2 separate regions of the Homo sapiens genome follow, and region 1 is linked to region 2. Evidence: fine-mapped expression QTL. A gene starts in region 2. The other region holds a variant in brackets. All regions are shown on one strand. Distances are between the middles of the regions. Region 1 has its middle 10 kb from the start of CSNK1G3. Region 2 holds the start of CEP120 (centrosomal protein 120).

What was found. PIP is the estimated chance that this variant, and not a neighbour inherited with it, causes the effect.
Region 1: its variant is the best candidate, but not a certain one, in a credible set for the expression of CEP120 in whole blood (INTERVAL, PIP 0.81).

What each region holds. Positions count from the first base shown.
Region 1 is chr5:123,499,667-123,504,205 of GRCh38, forward strand. No RefSeq gene overlaps it. Among named protein-coding and RNA genes, the nearest start is that of CSNK1G3, 10 kb to the right of the region's middle. The variant T/A (reference allele first, on the strand shown) is at 1,873.
Region 2 is chr5:123,420,930-123,424,929 of GRCh38, forward strand. CEP120 (centrosomal protein 120) reads right to left here and starts at 2,474. Exons shown (of 20, transcript NM_001375405.1): 1 at 2,021-2,474. The coding sequence starts at 2,069. RefSeq lists an enhancer at 1,740-2,685 and a silencer at 2,015-2,174.

The DNA.
Region 1 (4,539 bases), 79 kb after region 2:
TAGGTCCGTCCTTTGGACCCCTGATGTAGATGATTTGACCAAAGGGTGAGTTGGAATTAGCTCGGGTTCTGGAAGCAGAATTAAAGTGGAGTTAATTTCAGAACATTTAGATCTGACTATCTTCCAAAGGCAAAGGTACTTTTTGTTTCCTGTTCTTTATTTCCAGTAACTTTACCAAGCCAGTCATCATAATCCAATCTGAGGGCATGTGAGGCTCTTCAGGATGGGCTTCACAGTGATCTAGGAATCTACTGTTTGTAAAAGGACATGGAATTAAAGGTGAAAAAAATCTATGTACTTCCCCAGAGAGCAACAAAACCTCACTCTGAAAAGCATGTGGTTCAGATTTTTGGAGGTTAAAGTAGTTGACTTTGCCCACATGAAGTAATGTAGAATCAATGTCACTAAAACTGTGTGTGTGTGTGTGTGTGTGTGTGTGTGTGTTATGGGTGAAGCTGGTGGAGGCATAACGTATAAAACAAATATACCCACAGCACAACAACTACCTATTTTCTAATATATACATATACATACATATAAGTATATTATATACATATACATACATATAAGTATATTATATACACATACATATAAGTATATCATATACACATACATACATATAAGTATATTATATACACATTATATATTATCTAAATGCATATTATATATACGCACACATTTAAAATGTAGCTAGCTAAAAACTTACAGTGACGCCCTTTATGACTGCCACATGCCATCTTGAATCCTGGTTCAGGCTAGCCCAATAGTATGGTAGCAGCCTCATGCCACATTAGAGAATCCAGAAAACATATAATCTACTCGCAGACAGTGGAAAGACATATGGGAAACCCATATTACTGAGAACACAATAAGGAGATCATAAAGGAGGAAAATATGTTTGAGGCAAGAAAAATAGGGCAAGAATTAGAACTCTGGTGGGAGTGAAATGTCTATGTCATGCTAGGTCATTTCGAAATACAATTTGTTTTGGGGAGCATGGATTTAGTAATCTACAAAAAATTCATTTTAGTCACGTACCTTGGGGTTGAGACCTGGCAAGGATTTAAGCTGATTCTCATAGTTTTACCTCAGATTTTCCTGGCTGTTAGAAGCCCCATCGCTCTTATTTACATATAAAAGCTCTGTATAAAGTGAGGGAAAGCTTATAGAAGGGAAAAGCCAAGAAATAACTAAGAAGTCTTGGGACCTTAATATATTTCCAAGTTTCTGACTTCCTAACATCTCTTCCCATAAGTTCCCTGACACAGTGGGTATGACAATCTGCTCAAAGGAGAAATGACACGGCACTCACCAAAAGGGAACAGAAGAAGGAAGCTGGCAGTTTCTTCCTCTCTTTCCACAACAAAATCACACCCCTTTATTGGAAGGTGGTCTAGTTGGTAGCATCACATCACCAGAAAAAAGGCCCTAGCTTCACCCTCAGCATGGAGCAGAATGACAGGAGAACTTCACTGACATTTGATAACTTTCACTTAGTTTATTGGCTTTGAGAAAAAACATGGTGTACCACATACATACACACCCACCTACACTCACACATGTTAATTAAAATATATTATGAGTCTAAAACCTCTCAGCAATTCCATTATCCCATTATCCCATTCTGGTCCTAGTCAGCATGTTGTGCTAGTAACAGCCTCCAAACTGGCTACCCTTAGAGTCAAATCTCTTCATAGCAGCCAGAGTCTTCTTTAGATGTAAATTAGATTCTTTCAAGCTTCTACTTGAATCCTCTAGTGGCTTTCCTTTACATTTCTCATTTGTAAAATGGACTTACAAAAATGCCAACTTACTGGGACTCTGAAAATTAAACGAGAGAAAGCAGGCAAAGTACTTCCACAGTGCCTGGTA[T/A]ATATCGTAGACACTCCATAAATGTTCAATGGTAGCATTGCTATTATTATATTTTTTTCAATGTGTAATGAGTTGATAGTTATCTTACACTTGTAATTCTTTTTCAATTACTAGTGACCATTCAGGGGATGTTGCTCAGGAGATTCATTAGCTATGGTTAAACACACAAGTTCATGCTATTACAGGAATATTGTATATTTTGGAGCAAAATACATATAGCGAGTGTCCACGTAAAAAGCAGCTTCATGTGCCATTACTTGCCTGTCCTTGCTTCTTTTGAGTTTAAGCTTATATTTGCTTGTTTTCTCTGACCCAAACACTTAATTTAATAGTGTATTTCTCCTGATTAGAAGTCATATTGACCTTCTTGCATCTCAGTTTTGGCCTCTCTAGGAGACAAATGTGTTTCTCCTTGAGGTGCCCCTCCATAACCCTTGGTGTGAAATTCAGGAGTGTCACATTTAGGCCAGACTAACCCAAAGATACTCTCCAAATTTGGAGGGGAAAAAGAGACCCAATAATTTTCATGCAACGTGCCTAAGTAGACAAAGATAAACTGAACTTCCCCAACATATTTTCTATACTGTGCTTTAAAGAAATCAAGACAGTTTACAAAAATACACATAGCACAAGATAAAAATGAAAGGGAGTAGTATACAAGACAAGATTATACCACCAGAGTTGCTTAACTAAAATGCATGTTTTAAGATACATGGAATACGTTGAGATAGACTACAAAGTTGGCTCTGGGTTTCCTAGCAATCAGCACCATAAGGAAATAGAAATGTTAAATGATTTATGGCACCCGTAAGATTAAAACAAACCAGCTGTATAAAAGAAACATAATTCTTCCTGGTATTGTAACTTAAAATAAACTTGTTCTTTGGGTTCTCACATCGAAGATATGGTGTGATGGAGTAAATATCACCCTTAAAAATATTCCTACAGTAATTGCTATAATGAGTCTCATAGGACAGTTTCTTATATTGTCCCACAATGTAATCACTTAGTTATCCATAACAGGGCCGGGCACAGTGGCTCACGCCTGTAATCCCAGCACATTGGGAGGCCGAGGCAGGTGGATCACCTCAGGTCAGGACTTCAAGACAAGCCTGACCAACATGGCGACACCCCGTCTCTACTAAAAATACAAAAATTACTCAGGAGTGGTGGCACATGCAGGAGGCGTGGTGGCACATGCACATGAGGCTGAGGCAGGAGGATTGCTTGAATCTGGGAGGCAGAGGTTGCAGTGAGCCAAAATTGTGCCATTGAACTCCAGCCTGGGCAACAAATACAAAACTCTGTCTCAAAAAAAAAAAAAAAGTTATCCATAACAGAAATCCACATTTTGGTAAGCAAGTTCTATGCAAGGTGTTTGTTGGGGCAGTGGAGGAGATACAAAATCATGTGGGCCAGATGTATCTAAATCAAAGCATAAATTTGAGATATCCATAGAAGTAGAAAGGCTGCATATTTTTTAGAAAATTCCCCCAAAATATTTTTTTCAAATGTTTTCAGTATTATTTGACAGGGCAGTTTAAAGTTACATTCTTAAATACCTCTTGCCAATTAATGGCAGACCCATTAATTAGACTCACAACCTTTTTATCAAAGCTAATCCTAACCAGGACATGTTAGAACAGACACTGTCTAATTTCAAACAATGCAACTTCCTACTGAATCTTCAAGGATAAAGTAGCTGAAAAGAGAACCTAGAGTTGTAAGCAGCTAAAGGTTGGAGAATGTTTACTAAAAATAATTATTAATAATCATTTGTGTAGATATGTGGCTGAAAGGATCACTTATGTAAGTGAGCCAGTTGTACACAAGTAAATATTGGTTATTTAGCTTAAAGAATCTGTCATTCTTTGGGACCTGACATTTTGCAATAAGAGTTGATTAAAGAGTATTCTGAGTACACACCACAGTAATTCTCTGACTGGTGCTGTTTCCTGTGAATGCTATCATCTTTGAAGTTGTGCTTTAAAAAGGCTTTCCTTCAGCCTGTCTCTTTTCATTGCTCTCCCATATACATACTTACAGTTGCTCTAATTCAGTTTGGCATAAATCACTACTTTAGGATCTCTCTATCCTTTCTTTCCTCCTCCTTCTCTCTTTCCTTTATTCCTTTGTCTAAACAGGTTCAATCTGGAGACACTGTATTATAATAAGTCAACCCTAAGTCTGATAGTGTGTCCCAGGATCTCCTAACTCACCCCTTATTCCACATCATGAAAAGCAGGGTAAATACATGGACTTTGGAGTCAGAAATACCTGTATAGAAATTGTACCTCTGTCATTTACTAGCTGAATGACCTGAACACTTTGCTTAAACTCTGAGTCTTACTTTTCTCATTTACAAAGAAAGAGAAAATGATACCTACCTATGGTGATTAAGAAATGTTTTCTAGAAAATGCCTGAAAGTCTTCAGTTGGGCACTCACTAGTTGTTAGTTTTATTTCATCCAATTTGCCATTACATGAGGCTGTGGGCAATAATGATAAAATTATTCTAAGAGCCAGATGTGGCATTTGTAGGTATTAAGTCTTATCTCAGCAACTGTGGTTAGATTCAACCCCTTTTTAAAACCTAAAACCCTTCTATTTGACTTGGTGCTTGTGGTAGGCAAAATATGTCCTTTCTCCCAAAGATGTCCGCATCCT
Region 2 (4,000 bases):
GCAACAGCATGGTTATGATGAATGGAAATACAGTACGAACAAGAGAGAAGAATAGTTTGGAGGGAGGACCACATGCTAGTTTTGGGTATGTTTGTGGAAACAACCTAACAGACATCCTTGACTCCAGGTTCTCTTCCTTGCACACTGCTACTAAACTGAACTCAAGAAAAGCATTCTATTTAGGAATATATGCTGCCAACCTATTTCTTGGAACATTAATTCTAAACTGGCTTTCAAGATCCTCTGAGGCCTATTCGCTCCAGTTGTACAAGCTCATTTCTTACCATGACATTTCTAAATATTCACCTTCCTCTACCCTGGTCATCTTGCTGATCTTTTCAATGTTCCACCCACCATGCTCACCCCGGCACAAGCTACTTGGTTGGGAATCAAGCTGGTCAGAAAGACCTTGACTGCTAACCTTTTGAGTTTAAGCCTGAGGCTCTCACTTGAAACTCTGTATTAGGAATATTAACACACATCGCACAGCTCTCCCAATTAGCACTAACAGGCCTCTCTCAGGACCTCATTTTCTGCTGCTCTAAAACTAGCTTCCCCAAATGAATTGCATTTATGTCCTGGGTTGTCAGACTGGCCTGGGTTGTCCATAGAATTCTATTGTCACATATCTAAAGCTCACTTATTATTTAAAGAACTTCAGCCATCCCACCCACCCTACCCTCAAACCTATATTTACAGTACATATCACATATTTTAAATATTATACCCCAACATATTGTGTCCTGTGATCTCCCCACGTGGACAGACCTCTACATCCTTGGAGGGAATGGAGGTATTTGTTTCCTCATAGCATGGTCAGTTATAAGTCTAAAAACTGTTGTTAACCAAATTTTAAGGTTATTTCAGTCCTATGTTTTTAAACAATAAGTAAACTAACAGTTAATAGTGCTCCAAATCTTTATGGCTTTTCTGGTCAGTCTCTTGTTCCAAAATTCAAAGATTAGGATTACAATGTTTCCTTTGCTCTCATCCCTCACACAGTGCCAGGCCTTTATAAAACACTCTCCCATGGGGGAAAAAATGCAGCCAGGCTTCTGCTCTGGCTCAAGATGACTCCTTCTTAACATACTATTCGTAAAGTGTCCTCAATTCACCTGTTATCTCCTATGCCCTCCACTTTCTTGCAAATCTGTTCTCCAACCACACTGAATTTAACCAATGTTTACTGAGTGAATTTAATTAAGCAAGGCAAAACGTGTCTTGCTTTTCCATACTTTAAGTGCTCCCTGCTCTTCTCTTTGCCTGGAATGCCCTTCCTTTTTTCACCTGACAAATTCCTAATCATCTGTAGGACCCCAAAAAATGCCACCTCCTCTAGTGAAACTTCCGCAGTTTCCTTAGACAGAGGTGGTCATTCATTAGGGTCTTCCACATCCTGATGAATTATTTGCTGACACACTCTCCTTGCTACATCCTTAGCTTTTTAGAATCAGGACTGTTTCATTCTTACATTCCCAGCACAGTGTCTGACACTCAATGAGTCCCAATAAACCAATGTCATTCATCCAAAACACACCTTTTAAGGAATGTATAATACACCCTCTTAAGAACTGTAGTCCCCTGAGTCCTCCAGCAAGACGTGTAAAGGGAATTGCCTCCGGAACACTTCTGGAATCGCAGGAAGCCTGTATTCAAGTCAAAGCTCTTACAAGTGCTATTATTGGGAACCGCTGATCAGAACGCGCTTCTCAGGACCACGTTCAGCTCATATATAAAAGCCATCGACGTGCTGCTTTGGATGAAAATCGTTTTCTCTAGATTCTCTGGGGCTACGGCTAGTCACGCTAAATATCACTTATCCCTAATAGCGCTCATATCCCTGGAGAGATTTTTAAATCAATTGCCTAACAGACCTCACTACGTACAACTTTGAACAAGTCTGTGGGGACCACAAAAGCACAGATGACAGGGTTCTTAAGGTTAACAAGGCCTCGGTCCCACACTAAGCTTTTAAAACTCGGGAGGCAGCAGTTGCAAAAGCAAGCCTCAGGCTGCTCACCTTCTAGGATGGACACGACGATGAGCAATTGGTCGGATTTGGAGACCATGGTTGCGGTGAGCGGTCCGGGGGCGAAGGCGGCTGGGGGGAAGTGAGGTCCAGTTGAGTCGCGGGTAATCCGGGACCCCCGGCGGGACCCCCACTGCCCGCCCCCGGTCCCTGATGCCCGGACCCCGCTCCGCAGCCAGGTCCCACCGCCGTCTGCTGCAGCGCGCCCGGCTCCTCTGCCTCGGGCCGCCAGCCCAGATCCTAACTGTGCCCCGACTCAAGGAAAAAGCCACGCTGCAGCCCTGCCAGTCTGCAAGCAGAGACAAGCCCGCCACCCGAGGACCTTTTGCCGCCTGCGTAGCCGCTTTTCAAACGCCCGGGCGGCCGCAGCGGCCGCCGCCGCGCCCAGCTTCCGCCTAGCAACCAGGCCCGCAGGCCCAGTGCCCAGGGGAGGTTGGAGGACAACGGGTGATAGAGACAGAGCAGTCAAGGCTAGAACGCCCGTCAGCGAGCTTCGCCTCCCGCCCTTTTACGCTCTGTTCCAGAGCCCTAAGGAGGACGCCTTCATTACCTCACAGCGCCCTCTGCTAGCCGGACGAGGAGAGGCGGGCGACTTGGTGTGGGACCAGCTGCGCAAGCGCACTACTGCTGTAAACGCTTCCTGAAGCTGCGTAGCCTTTAAGGAGCGTGAGTGTAGCGTATTACCTGCTTTATGCTTCAGCCACAACCTGAGAGTTATATTAGTGGGGATTAAAAAAACAAAAAAACCTAGCTTAGTTGACGTACCCAGTGTCAACACTGCTTAAAAAATTAAATCACAAAAAAATAATGACTTAAATCTAAACTCTAAAGTCCCTAAATCGTGCTCACGCGGCACCTCAAATTTCCGACCTTTGAAAACAAGTAGCTTCAATACGGTAATTACTGTACTTGTTAAAGCTGACGTAAACTCCCCGAGAATTTCCTGTCCCTTAGAAATTACCCCTAAAACAAAAACACTGTCACGTGGGCAATGAAATATAAAGGTTCTTCCACCCCCGATGACAAAGTTATTAGCAAACTCAAAACCAAAAATAAACAAGGCATTGAGGTGCTGTCTGCCGACCCTTTCCCCTTAACGTCTCCCAAATTCAGATTTAAGAAACGGTTCAAGACTTGTAAAGGGAACGGCCTCCTAAACACTACTCAAATTGCAAGAAGCATGTATTCAAGTCAAAGGCAAAGTTCTTTTGGAGGTTATCTAGCTTGAAACTTAAATAACCGAATTGGTTGGAGCGATCGTGGACACTATTAAGTTTGGGAAAAATTCTGCTTCGGAAAACAAAAGTAAATCATAATAAAATAAAGCTGCAGAGATAGCACTAGGTAGTGGACATAAGTGCGGCTTCTCCTATTACTTTCTGGTTTTGTAAATTGAGAAGTTGTTTTGAGAGCAAATATAATATCTCGCTGTTTTCTTTTTCTTCTATTGCTTCCTTGTTTTGGAAATTTAGAAGTTATTTTGAGAGCAAATAATATAATATCACTATTGTTTTCTTCTTCCTCTTCTTTATTCTTCCTTCTTTGCTTTCTGCCCAAAAGAAAAGGAGGAATATGTAGAGATTGGACTAATTACTTCTAAGGCCCTTTCAGGTCCTATCACAGGCATTCTTAAAATGAAGCACTATTCAATGTAAAATCAAAGTAATGATCTACTTTGGATTCATCATTGAACAATGCATTATTTTTGTGGAAGATGTCAAACATACTTTAAAGAAAGCAGAATGATATAATGAACCCCCAGTTACCCAGACCCCAGCTTCAACGATTATCAACTTAAGACCAATCATCTTCATCTGTTGTGTTATTTTTAAAGAAATCCCCAACATCACATCAATTCATCTTTTTGGATACGTACTTCTAAAAGATGAAGACTTTTTGGCCAGGTGTGGTAGTGGCTCACATCTGTAATCCCAGCACTTTGGGAGGCTGAGGTGGGCGGATCACTTGAGT